2 separate regions of the Homo sapiens genome follow, and region 1 is reported to be linked to region 2. Evidence: microRNA targets listed by miRTarBase, many of them from high-throughput screens and not tested one by one. Region 2 holds a microRNA gene; the other region holds the end of a gene's coding sequence.
What was found. Region 2 holds the annotated microRNA hsa-miR-4425 (UGUUGGGAUUCAGCAGGACCAU, at 4,312-4,333, shown strand). A microRNA usually pairs through its seed, bases 2 to 8, with sites in the 3' UTR of a target mRNA and lowers its output. Matches are read on the target gene's strand: a 7mer-m8 pairs with bases 2 to 8, a 7mer-A1 pairs with bases 2 to 7 and ends in A, and an 8mer does both.

Region 1: the mRNA of KIF5B is a reported target of hsa-miR-4425. Seed matches in the 3' UTR shown: 8mer at 2,430-2,437.

Annotation. Positions count from the first base shown.
Region 1 is chr10:32,008,909-32,016,028 of GRCh38, forward strand. It overlaps KIF5B (kinesin family member 5B), which reads right to left. Exons shown (of 26, transcript NM_004521.3): 25 at 6,601-6,751; 26 at 107-2,608. The coding sequence ends at 6,621. All of the region lies in intron 2 of LOC107984219 (a long non-coding RNA gene), which reads left to right. Among named protein-coding and RNA genes, the nearest start is that of KIF5B, 44 kb to the right of the region's middle.
Region 2 is chr1:25,019,241-25,026,360 of GRCh38, forward strand. MIR4425 (microRNA 4425) reads left to right here and starts at 4,263; the gene lies at 4,263-4,346. RefSeq lists enhancers at 1-52, 93-252, 210-1,106, 1,365-1,893, 1,894-2,420 and 4 more.

The DNA of each region.
Region 1 (7,120 bases), not on the chromosome of region 2:
ATACATAAATATAATGACATATCAGTCACTATTCTGTCAAGACAGAAGGCCTGAACTCAGCCATGTAAAATCAACCTAACACTTAAGTTTTAAGAAAGTCATTACATTTCAAAAAATTTTCCTCTTTATTTAAACATAAAACGCATTTACAACATGCAAGTTAACTTAAAATTAAACGGTGTCTTCCCAAACCAAGTATTTGTGAATGTATCTTCAAGCACTGAAAATAAACCAACATATTCCACAGGTAGACTCAGACTCTCTTCTGTCACCTCATGTCAAATGGAGTTAAGCACAAACTGAGAGTTACGCACAGTAGTTTTCTTAAGTTAGGCAAATAATTTAATTAATCGCCATGAATAAATATTCTCTTTATTTCATTGAGTTTCTCTTCTGAACCATCTATCAATGCCATTCAGAGGAACGTTAATATATCCAGTCAAAAAGACACTGCAAATTGAAATGTGTCAATATCCTAGATGATCAGAAATTTTCATTTTTAAGAGTAAGTGCTGTGTTTAATGACCTACCATAGCAAAAAGCAGTTCACTGAAAACAAATTTATGAAATTCTTGGTACACTTTATGAAAGTCTGAAATTATAAATAGAAAAGAACCATCAAGATACTTTTTAAAAACCTAACATTGTATATTCTGAACCACATGCTAATTAAAATTCGTTGTTCATTACACAGCACCAATACCCATGATACATCTTACAAGAACAAAACTAACATATTTGGAAAAAAGAGAAAAAAAAATTCTGCTTCATTTACGAATGTTGCCAAAGGAGGCAAGTTTTCAACTGAAAACAAAACATAAAGGTCTATGTGGATGCAGCCAAATGTTTCTCCATTTAGAAAATCATCATAAAAGGTGGCAGCACTTTTTTTGCTTGTTAACTATATTACTTATAACTGGCTGCACCAACATTTCATCTCAATTTTTGGAGTGTTTCTTCTGATCAATCCTAAAAGCAACACAATCATTTTAGAGGTTGCAGACTACAACAGCAAAGATTTTTGACTATTAAAAAAATAAATAAATAAATTTATATTTTAAATCAAAATTATTACAAAAGTGGAAATTACAATAGTTACGGAAATAGAAAAATAAGCCAATTATGATCTGAGTCTTCTGACTATGGCTCCAAATTTAATACAAATATCTGTGTATAAAACTTTTGCAAAAAGTTAATTCTGCCAGCAAGATCCTAACACAGAACTTTCCAAGTTTCTCTGCTAACCTTAAATCCCCATTCTCTGTGAATTTCTGCTAACACAGTTGCAGTCACCGCCCCCCTACCACTGATGAAGCAAATAGTGAAATCTCTTTCCCTATTACTTTTACAGTTTCCTAAAATAAGCTGTTGACTTACTTTAATCATCTGAGGAAAAAGTGGCAAAAATACGTATACACTTAGTACTGATTACAAAATTATCGGCTATGGCCAAGAAAATAATTTATCTAATGATTATTAGTGACTTGCAAACAATTTACTATTTCTAGACTAAAGAAATAAATTAGTGTACAAATTAGTGTAGCAGGTTAAAAACACCTCAGGGATTTCAGACCAAAATTGACCTATATATATTTTTAATTCATCATATATCTGTCCTGTTTCTTCATTTTTCTCAATTTCCACACGCTATAAATTTAGGTCGGCCAATAAAGTACTAACCGTATAAAATTATGTTTAATCCTATAATATCTTAATTCATTTTACTAATATTAAAGATGACAAATTATTACCTGTCCAATACTTATATTAGCTAGCAGGCTCACCAGAATAAAGCAGAGTATTTTAATTCCATCAAGACTTGTTGAGTACAGAATCAGGAAAAAGAGAAATATAATTCCTTTTCCAAACTCCCTTAAACTAAGATCTGCTTTTGATACTTTAAAATATTTCTATTCAAAATAACTCGGCAACAGGCATTTCATGAGATAACAAGTAGCCTTGCTCAGTCTCAAATGCCTATTAGGCATTTGTAACGTTTCAGTGCTCAAACAGTAGTTTTCAGGAGCAAACTTCAGAAACAATACAAGTAATTTTAACCCTGATATCATCATTTCAAGGGATTTTAAAATACAGTACTGACTGGATATATTTTATGGGCATGTAGTGTTGTTAAGTGGTAAAATTTAAAGACATTTAACCTAAATGTTCCATTTTCTCTTAAGAAAAAAAAAGGAAGACGTTTTAATAGGAAAAGAAAAACAAGAAGCAGTAGCAGCTAGGTAATTTAAACTGAGATTAAAAAATAAACATACACAAAAAATACAAAAAGTACAGTCCTATAAGGTACAGTTAGCTTGGCACAGTAAAGACTAAATTTAAGACACGATAGACAAACTGTGTAATAAATAGGGCCACAGTTGTAAACTGTCCTTTTTCCCTCCTAAGATGCCAAAATTGCACTCTAGTTGTGTTGGGAAGCAGCAGAGTTTACAAGAAGAGTAGGTAGGAAACAGCTGTACAGGCCAGGTATAATTTATACATTTTTTTTAAAAGTTATAATTCTACAATCCCAAGGGAGTAGAGGTTATAGTCATTGAATGACTGCTTGATACCATGTCCTCTTCGTACTTCGATTACTTTTTAACACCTAAAAATGGGAGAAAGCATAGAGTAAATATGTTTAGTTTTACAAAATTGGTGTTTGAGATAATCATGAAGAATAAAACAAAATAAAATATGCCAACAGTTTATTATAAACATTTTAGCCAACATCTGTGGCTACTTTCCCCAAAATTAGAAGGATGGCAATATTAAATGATTTGGTTTCCTTTTATATACTACCTAAGTAGAACTGTTTAGAAGCAGTAATGTTTAAAGGGAGGTCAGCCCTCCCTTTGTTTTTATTCTCCCAAATAAAGCTATGGGTAAGCTGATTTATGAATTGTATTTGTTTAAAAAAGAAAAAGACGGCTAATCTTTTAACCAGCAGACAGTGGTCAGTGACCTTCTTAAACCAAGGAACACTAACCAGCAACTACTAGTTATATACATAGAAGCTTTAAAAAAAAAAGGGGGAGAGGAATAGGGATAAACAAGAGGTGTATACAGTAGGAAAAGTAACAGTGAAATAAATAATTCTAGTAGTATTAAACTGCCTACTTACCTATGCATTTAGAAAAGCAACCTATTTAAAGTACTATGCAAGGCAGAAGACTAGTCATGTAAAACTGGGAACTAAAAGTATCAGTATTATAAATGTCATCCTTTCCAAAAATAAACACAGTGACTTGAAATGTTTTTCTTAACATTAAAAAAATTTCTCGCCGGGCACAGTGGCTCACACCTGTAATCTGAGCACTTTGGGAGGCTGAGGGAGGCAGATCACCTGCGGTCAGGAGTTCAATACCAGCCTGGCCAACATGGCAAAACCCCGTCTCTAGTAAAAATACAAAAACCTTAGGCGGGCGTGGTAGTGGGCGCCTGTAATCCCAGCTACTCGGGAGGGTGAGGCAGGGAGAACTGCTTGAACCCGGGAAGCAGAGGTTGCAGTGAGCCGAGATCCTGCCACTGCACTCCAGTGCAAATTATTTAACATTTAAACAATTTATCACTTAAGTGAATCATATACTCCCCAATCATGGTTTAAGATAGATTATAAGAGTTTGAAAACTAAGAACCACTATCTTTGGACCAGCATCAAAACAAACCTGTAAATAATTGTATTTTTACATCATAACTTTCAAGTCTTGAAAACCTAGTTTGGCTGGGTTAGCTCCCTCCCTTATGTGCTAACCTGGTGTCACTTTACTGCTATCAGCAATAGTTAACAAAAGTATGGTCTGTCCTCTCTCTACAATGAGGTAAGTTTAAAGTTGACATATGAATTTTAATGTGAGGACAATATCCAAAAAGGATAAACTTTCTATCTATGCTTTGAAAATCCCCTTGCCCAGCTCCCACTTCCAGAAAGGTAGGAAAAGGCTTGCATCTACTGAATACTGTGTGCTGGGTAACATCTTAACTCATGTAATTTTTTTTTTTTTTTTTTTGAGACGGAGTTTTGCTCTTGTTGCCCAGGCTGGAGTGCAATGCCACGATCTCGGATCACTGCAAACTCCGCCTCCTGGGTTCAAGCGATTCTCCTGCCCCAGCCTCCCGAGTAGCTGGGATTACAGGCATGTGCCACCACGCCCTGCTGATTTTGTATTTTTAGTAGAGGCAGGGTTTCTCCGTGTTGGTCAGGCTGGTCTCGAACTCCTGACCTGAGGTGACCCACCCACCTCAGCCTCCCAAGTGCTGGGATTACAGGTGTGAGCCACTGCTCCCGGCCAACTCATGTAATTCTTAAGAATGACTTCCATTTTACTAATAAAACTGCTATGAGTCCAAAGGGGAAAAACACAGGAGTTATCTCTAATTATCATGAAAACCAGCTATTGTATGTCTACTGATATTAAGTACATATTATCTATGACATAACTTTGTCAAAAATGTTTATGCTGAGTCTAATCAATGCTTTTGCATAGAAATAGAGGGAGAACAAGGTGACTACACATAAAAACAATCAGACACAGGTGTTATACCCTCAAGATAACTGGGCCTACTCAGTAAGTCAATATCACTAAAGAGGGTGCTCATTCAAGATCAGAAGAGATTTAAGGGATAAAACTAAACGCAAACAGCAGTCCTGAATTGTACTCTGGTTTAGACAAACCAGCTGTACAGGATAGTGAAAAAGAAATTGGAAAAATCTGAATATGGAATGGTATTAAATAATATTAAAAATATAATCTTACTGGGTGTGATAATATTGTGGCTATGTAGAAAAATGTTATTTTAGAGATTCATTAAATAGTTAAGCAATAAATCCATAATTTTTATGAAGTACTGTAAAACAAGTCAGAATGAGAAAAAAACTATTAAAAAGTTTATCTGCTCAAGTTCATAAAAGTAGTCAGGATTCCAACTTGGATGGAACTCCATAGTCCCTGTTCTTTTCACTCTACCACTGTTTTAAATCCTACATTGTGTGAACAAAACGTTTAAAATTGCTAGAAATGTGAATCCTTCAGAATATTTCTTAATTCTCTACTCAACTTAGAGCCAGTATTATGCAAAATGTCGAAGTATAAACAAGCAACATTAAAATAAACTAGCTTTAGTATTTGTCAGAAACAGCTGATCATTTCATAATTATCTAGTATTTTTTATTTCCAAAGCACATACACACATCAGGGACTTCCTGAAGAGTTAGTTACAATCAGAGTTGCTGCTATATGACCAATTATTAGGCAACCACTAACCAATCACGTTGTAGAAGAAAGTGTTCCGAATATATTGCTAAGTTTAAAAAGCAGGCTACAAAATACAAAATTAGCCGGTGTGGTGGTGCACGCCTGTAATCCCAGCTACTTGGGAGGCTGAGGCAGGAGAATCGCTTCAACCTGGGAAGCAGAGGTTGCGGTGAGCCAAGATCACCCCACTGCATGTCAGCCTGGGCAACAAGAACGAGGCTCCGTCTCGGAGTGGGGCAGGGGGGTGTGGGGTTTGTGGGGGCAGGGGGCCGGAAAAAAAAGCAGGCTCCGAAGCAGCATATGTAGTAGAATAAGTGGAGTCTATTACAATAGTTATCAACAGTTTAAACTTTTAAATTTAAAAACTAATACAGAAAGCTCCAGAAAGAGAGAGAGAGAGAGAGAGATAGTATATTGTGTAGTATCTCTAGATTTTTTCTAATTTGTGACTGTTTTATGCCCTACAAAGAACAGATATTACTTATATAATTATAAATAAAACTCAGAAATCTGTTAGTAAGCTGGGCTCATAAGCAATTTGGTGCAGTCTTTCTAGAAACCAATGTGTTAATATGTAGCAAGAGCCTTAAAAATGTTCATATTTCCTTGTAATTGCATTTCTGGGAACCTTCTGGAAATAATCTCTAACAGGTTAGGGAATACAAGGAGATGTTTCAGGTCGGGCGCGGTGGCTCACGCCTCTAATTCCAGCACTTTGGGAGGCCGAGGCGGGCAGATCGCCTGAAGTCAGGAGTTTGAGACCAGCCTGACCAACATGGTGAAACCCCTCGTCTCTACTAAAAACACAAAAATTAGCCAGGCATGGTGGCAGGCGCCTGTAATCCCAGTTTGGGAGGCTGAGGCAGGGGTATCGCTTGAACCCAGGAGCCAGAGGTTGCAGTGAGCTGAGATCACGCCATTGCACTCCAGGCTGGGCGACAAGAGTGAGATTCCATCTCAAAAAGAAAAAGAAAAAAAAAAAAAGATGTTTCAAATTTCATATATGAAAATTTTGGTTTTTGAAAATTTCAATTATGGAAAAAATTAATATAATTACATGTCTAGCCAAAAGGAAAGGAATGTTTATAAACCATGGTACATCCATTAGACACAGTATCAAAAGCTATTACAAATGGTCCAATGCTAGATTTCAAAACAATTAAGACCACAAATTTGAATATATAGTATGATCTAAACTACACAAAAAGATCAAACTAAATTACTTTTATAATGCTTAAGTTAAAAAAATCATAACACTAATGTGAGAATTTTTTAAAACCAAAAAACCTATTTAACAACCAATTTTCCACAAACAGATATGAAAAGCCAGATATAAATAACAAACCTGTGGGTATGTATAAACGATTACACTTGTTTGCCTCCTCCACCTCGCACTGCCACTGGCTGGCTGTTCTGAACAAATGCACCTCCTCCACGAATTGCACTTGGGTGAGTTGGAGAAGCTGCTGGATGTTGCCCGGGACGAATAGGTTTAGCTAATATGAAAAATAAAGACAGACTTTAGAATAAAGTTTAAGATGTGACTGCAATGACTGTTAAGGTTTCTTCTCTTATTCACAACAAATTCCCAAATGTTTTGTTTTTCTTTGCCTTTTTGTTTCTCCATCACTTTTTCTTTTCTGTAACATCCTTTTCTCTAGGACCTATACAATTCTTAGCCTTTAAAAATCTTCCTGGCCAGGCGTAGTGGCTCATACCTGTGTAATCCCAGCACTTTGAGAGCCTGAGGTGGGTGGATCATTTGGGTCCAGGAATTCAAGACCAGACTAGGCAATAAGGCAAAACCCTGTCTCTACAGAATATAAAAAAATTAGCTAGGTGTGGTGGCGTGCACCTGTAGTCCC
Region 2 (7,120 bases):
AGCAGTGGTGGGAGAGAGGGCAGACAGGGAAATCTGGGCACTGTGTGCAGCCCCCAGATATGAGAGGAAGCCCCTGAGTGGAGAGTCATGAGACTTTGGAAGGGGCAGAAGGCTTTACTGAGGGGAGGGGCATCCAGGGAGGAGGGGCCTGGAAGTCCCCAGGGGCCACTCTGCAGGGGCTTCCCTGGGCCTGGTCTCTGTTTTACATAGTCTGGCACTCCCAGGCGGGCTCACAACTTGGAGTCCTGGTTGGGGAGAGGGAGTCAGGAGAGCAGGAGGCAACCTCCCATACCCGCCATACACCAATAATCAGACACCCTCACTCCGGACCAAGCCTGGACACCTGTGGGGTGAGCACACTCATAGCTATAGGCCCACAGACTGAGAAGTACATGCAAATGGCCACATGCCAGACCCATATGCAAAACACAGACCCAGACAGGCCATGCACAGACCCACATTTCCACACCGGGGCCAGACCCGCATGCAGGAGTGTGCAGGCATGTGGATGCGTGCACACACACTCCCGCACATACATGCCTGCACACACACACACCTGCACACATACACATGCCTGCACACACACACACCCCTGCACACATGCATACATGCCCACACACACACACCTACATGCCTGTGCACACACACACCTGCACACACGCATACATGCCTGGACACACACGTACATGCCCGGACACACACATGCCTGCACACACACCTGCGCGCACACACACCTGCACACACACATACATGCCTGCACACGCACACATACATGCCTGCACACACACATTCACATACATGCCCACACACACATGCACACACATACCTACCTGCATACACACACCTACACACACATACATGCCTGCACACACACATTCACATACATGCCTACACACATGCATACACACATACATTCTTGCATGCACACATCTGCACACACATACATACCTGCACACACATATTCACATACATGCCTACACACACGTGCACACACATACATGCCTGCACATACACATGCACATGCATGCCTACACACATGGGTGCACACAAACGTGAGCACACACATGTGCTGAACAAGGCCCCAGGAAGCCTCCAGCACAGGCCAAGAGAACGGCTCCCTCTACACTCGTTTATTCACTCCACAAACCAACTGAGCACCTACCAATGTCAGGCACAACCCCTGCCCCTGGAACTCACACTCTAGTGAGAAAAATGTCAATCACGCCTATCGAAATAATGACTATTCCTCACACATTCACGAGATTTTGCTCATTTAACCCTCAAAGCAGCCCTCTGGAGTCGGGGGGTCTCTGCTGCACAGATGAGAAAATGGGGTTCTGAGAGGCGTGGCACCATGCCCTGCTCGAAGCTCCAGAGCCGGCGATTGGCAGCCCCACTCAGATGGGTCTGGGGAGGGCTCTCTACTTCCTCTCGGTGACTTCTGTCTCCCCTGCCCTCTGCAAAAGCGGAGGCTGTGGGGATGTGGCCCCTGGCGCTAGGAGCAGGCCTGCTGAGGGGCCTGGCTGCTCCCTCTAGCCCCACTGTGGCCCTGGACAAGCCTTTCTCTTCCCACCCCTGCTGCCCATTGCACAGAAGCAGACATGGAGTCTGAGAGGACAGTGGCCTCGTGAGGTGGCCGAGCTGGGCACTGCGTTAGAGACAGGGAGGGGGCAGCTTCTGCCACCCACATCCCCAGATCAGTCGGTCCATGAGTCCTCACTGAGCCTGGTCCTGGCTGGATGCTCTGCCAGGCACACAGGGACAGCCCAGCCCAGGGCCTCCATGTTGCTTCCCACGCTACCAGGCCCGGGAGCACCAAACTCCTCGAGTACCAGGAAGCGAGCCCGCACACACCTTAGCTGCAGGTCCTAGCACCCCCGCCTTTCCCAGCCTCATACTCTCTGGACAGACAAGAGACTCCCCCTCACCCCAGGACCTACAGCCTACGGAGGCCTGGAGCCACCCAGCCTGGGCCGCAGGGACCTCAGGGAGGGTGCAGACGGGGGACGGAGGGCACAGGCCAGGGCCCTAACACCAGGCAGAGCCGTCCACAGTGGGATCGCCCACCTCGTTGGCTGCCTGGAGCATGGCCACCCTGTCCTGCATGTGAACTCGGGAGTGGGGAGAGCAGAGAGAGGCGGGGGCCGTCATTCAGCCTCTTGGAACTATTCTTGTCAGTGCCTCGTTCCTGGAAGCCTCTTTGGGCTGGGCCCTGTGTACAGGCAGAGGTTGGTGTGGGAGGGGAAGGCTGGGGTGTGTGTCTCTCACTGGAAGCCCTTGGAAAACCCCTCCCCTCCTTCGGGGCAGCCCCTGCCCTCAATTTGCTTACAGTCTGTTCCAAGCTTCTCAATCCATCAGATCAACTAGAGGAACTTTATAAAATGCAGGTTCCTGGGCTCCTTCCCAGTCTGCTGAATCCTAATCTCAGGGCTGGAGCCCTGGAATCTGTATTTTTTCAAAGCCTCGAGACCTGGATGAGAAGGCAGCACTGAGATCCCCTGGCCCAGGTTCTGGCGACTGCTCATGATTATTTTTTGGACCCCGTCGGTGGGATGCTGTCTTATTTAATCCCATGTCCCTGCAAAGGATCCAGTAGATGCCAAATGAATGTTTGCTGGCAGTACTGGTGGGTTGGGCAGGGTATGGACTCACCTAGAGGTATGCCTGGACCTCCCCCGGCCTGCTGTGTGACCTTGGACAAATCACTGCCCTCTCTGGGCCTTGGCTTAGAGGGTCTCCAAAGGCAGATATTTAGTGAGCCACTGATGGTCACCAAGGGCTGCCCGAACATCCAGGAGGTGATCTTACTCCCAGCGTGGGAGGGAACCAGACTGGCCTCCAAGGCATCTCTGGGATTCCCTTAGTTTGCCTTCTGAAAAATGGGCCCGGGCCATGGAGGCATCCTGAACTGCACTGCTCTCGCATGGACAACAGAGAGGGCATTCTTCCACACCTAAGGGAAAGAATATTTACCAACCCCTGGGGCCGCCCCTGAACCCTGGCCTAGGCCTGAGGGCTGAGCTGAGGGGTTATGAGGACCCCTGGCCTCTCCCTTGCCCCTCCCCCTCCTACCCCACCCCCACCCCCTGCTGTGGGCGAGGAGCAGGTGCCTGGCTTCCACTTCTTAGAATCCCTGTGAGGCCCTGGGGTGGGGGTGAGCTCATTTACGGGAAGGGGGGGATGGGGGGCTCTCTTCTCACCCGGCCCTGCTGGAGGCGGGGGGGGACAGCAAGTGCGTAAGCAGCCCCAGCTCCCGGCCTGCCTCCGGAAATGCCGCCCAGGGCTCAGTCACGAACCTAGCCAGGCAGGGGGGCACAGCCAGAGCACTCAGGGGTGTCAGGTGACCTGCGAGGAAGCTTGGCTGGGGGCCTAGAGGCTGCACCGGGGTGCACAGTGAGGTCAACTTCCCCCTTCCTGGGCCTGCACCCTGACACAGGGGTGTGCACCCCACGGCCCAGCTGGATGTGTCTCCTGCTGTCTGCCTATCTGTCTGCTGTGCCCTGGCCCACCGTGGGCTCTGGGCCTCTGCTGGGCTCCCCTGGCACCCATGGGGCCTGAGTTCTCATCAACAACCTGCTTCAAGGGGTGCGTGTCAGGGTCCTGGGGTATGGGGGAGACCCCAGCCAGGTCCTGGTGCGGACAGCCCTGCTTCCCTACCCCCTCTCCCCTTCCCTCCCTCCTCCACTTCTCTCTGCAGCTATTTAAAGCAAGTGGTGGCGTGGGAAACTTCTTCAGATGTGTGGTTTCATCTTCTTCAGCACAGGGACGGGGCGTCTGCTCGCTCTGGTGACTCATCCAGAGTGAGAAAAGCCTTTTTGTTGTTTGATGCTCGCTGGAGGCTCTGTAGCCTGAGAACCTGGCCCGATGGGGCCTTCCCTGCTGAGACTCCTGGGAGGCCTTGGGAGTGCCCAGGGCAGCCCTTTTGTTCCATCCCCAGACCCAGGGAGCCCGGGACCAGTGGAGCCCCTGAAGCTGAAATACTCTGCTTAGAGTGAGCCTTCCTGACTGGTGGGTGGGGCAGGGGTGGCCATTCTCAACACCCAGCTCAGCCACCACCTCCTCCAAGAAGCCTCCCTGATTCCTCCAAAACCTCAGTCGATCTCCACCTTATTCAGTCCTCTAACCCTCAGTCTTCTTATCTATGAAATGGAGCAGTGGGTCCAAGCTTCACAGATCTGTGTGAAGATAAACTGCGGAACACACACAGATGCTCAGTAGGTGAGATTCGTGGTAAGATTTATTGAGCATTTATTGTGTGCTAAGTGCTTTACATGAATGGTCCCATTGAATCCCAACAGCTTTGCGAAGTGTTGTTGGGATTCAGCAGGACCATTCGTGTAAAGTAATATTCCCATTTTACAGATGAAGAAACTGAAGGATGGGGAGGGGGTCAAGTAATTTATACATTGTCTCATAGTTAGTAAGCAGCAAAGTGAGATTCAAACCTAGGCCATGTGATGCCAGAGCCCCAGCCTTTAGCCACTGTGCCAACCTGTCCCTGGCAAACGTAACTAATAAGGATTTGGACTCAAGGCTATAAAGGGCATGCCCCTTCTGTTCAGAGGCTTTGCACATGCTCTTCCCCTGCCTGAAGCACTGACCCTTCCCCAATTGCCTGACTATATCCTCCCCAAGGCTCAGAGATGGGCTGGAAGGTCACTTCCTCCAGGAACTTTCCAGGATTGTCTCTGTCAGGTACCCTGGTGACGCACAGCGAGTCTCTGTGTACTCACTACCACGGCAGCTAAATCACTGTTTCCGCCTGTGTCCTCACCCAGACTGTGAGTGTCCCCAGGGTAGAGATGGGTCTGGCCTCCCATTGCCCCATCCCCACGGCAAGCACAGTCTCTGGCACACAGTAGGTCCCCAAGGTTTGTGGACTGAATAAGTACCACCAAGGTGGCCAGAGGCTGGGAGAAGCCTGGAGCACCAATGGCCATGAAAATTTTCCAGAAGCTTCTCTGTCATTATACAGAAATCCCTTTGATGCCCCCTGGAGAACACAGGCCTTGAAACTGCTGCCTGATGAGGGTTTGGGGGAGACAGGCGGTCTCAGAGTAGCCTACTCTCCCAGGGCAGCTGTGCCACGGGCTATTGGAGATCCCGGGCTATTTGTGATGGCCTTGGAGCATTATGGGAGCAGGGAGGAAGGTCCCCTGTCCTGCTGCCACTCTCTGCTACCCTGAAGTCCCGTAAGAAAGGACCACTCAGCTCCATCCTTGGGAGTCGAAAGATCACCAGGGCCAGAGAGAGGTTCTGGGAAGAGGTGGGCACAGAGAGTCTTGGGGGTCCAGGGTCTTGGAGGAGCTGGGGTCCCTTGAGTGATGGACTTCAAAGTGAGGCTGGGCTGCCCCCATTGAAGGAACAGCAGCCGCCATCTAGAGATGTCCAGTGAGTGCCTCGAGCACTGCCATTGATGCAGACAGCTGTGGCCTCAGACCTGGATCCTGGCAGCAGAGGCCATCAGTGGACCACAGCGTGCTTCCCAGTGGCCATGCCAGGGTGGGTGGGGAGCAGCTTATCTGACCACAGACCAGCCATGCCAGCAAAGGCGCTGCCGTTTCTGCCCACATAAGGGCTACAGTGGCTGCAGCAGCCACGCCAACAGGGGCAATGCAGTGTTCAGGGGGTGCAGCCAGGCCAGCAAGGGGGGAAAGGATAGATGACCACGGAAGAAGCCACAGCAGCAGCCACGCCAGGTAGGAATCATGCAGAGGAGCAGGGGCACACCAAGCAGCAGTGCAGCTGGCCTTGGAAACAAATACTGCCTTCTGACATCAAATGCTCTGAGGACGGTTGAGGGGCTTGGGCTTCGGTGCCCACCACCTGCCATCACTGCTGCCTCTTCTGTGGGGTTCTCCTGGTTGCCCTAGAGGCCTAGCAAGAGGCAGCACGGGCCAGGGAGGCACGAGGGGGAAACTGAGGGCAGGAAGCCAAAGGATGGCAAGAGAGAGGCTGGGCCGCTGCACGGGGCCTGGGGGGAGTGGGGAGAAGGAGGGCCACCCTGGACACCGGTGTCCTCAGACTGCTTCTCATGCCCTCCTCCTCCCTCCAGGGCTTACCCTGCCTGTGAGCAGAGTCTGCTGCTATCCCGGTTCCACAGACAAGGACAGAGGGGCTCAAAGAAGTCTGGGAATGTGGAAGCCTGGGGATTTGGAAGTCGGCTGGAGCTCTAGCTGCCGGCCTCTGTCATTTGGGTGTGTTCTTTATTACTACAGAGCGATGCTGCAGAGAAAGAGGGCATGAGGACTGGAGATGGCTGGCCCTGGGCAGACCTTTCAGGGCCTCAGTTTCCTCACCTGTGAAACTGGACACTTGGCCTCCACCATCCCCCAAGGCTCTCCCAGCTCAGTGGTGCTACAATAGGAGGGATGATATGTGGCCAAAGGGAGGGGAGTGGGTGGCCAGGACAGGCTGCCCTTTGCTGAGGCCTTTGTGACTCTGTTACCCCAAATGGAAGCCAGAGAGGTAGAGTGACTTAGCCAAGGTCATACAGCAACTCACTGGGGGGTTGGGGAAGGGAACCCTGCTTGACTGGGCGGGGCAGAACCTGGAGGCTCAGGCATGTTGGGGAAGGATGGGAGACTGCAGCTGAGAGTCCTCACTCCCAGCCCGTCTTCTGAAACACAGACGCTGGGAGAGCCATCTCCACCAAGGCCAGAGCTGCCTGTCTCCAAACTGAAAGTCACAAATGCACTGAAAACTTGAGGCCCTGCTCTGCCCATTTCCAACTTTCTGCCCTGGCCCCAGAATCATAGGCATCCCCCCATTGTACAGAGGGGAAGGCTGAGGCCCAGCAAAGGCAGGGGACTTGTCCAAGGACTCCCAGGGAGGCCATGCTAAAGCAGGGGCTAGCATCCTGACTCTTGGTTCCCTGCCCAGTAGTCCCCACCATCATCGCCAAATAATAATAATAGTAATAGGCCAGGCACAGTGGCTCACACCTGGGATTCCAGCACTTTGGGAGGCTGAGGCGGGTGGGTGGCTTGAGCCCAGGAGGTCGAGGCTGCAGTGAGCTGTGATTGCACCACTGCACTCCAGCCTGGGCAACAGAGCTAAGACCCTGTCTCAAAATAATAATAATAATAATAAATGTATCGAGGGCCCTGGAAATCAGCTC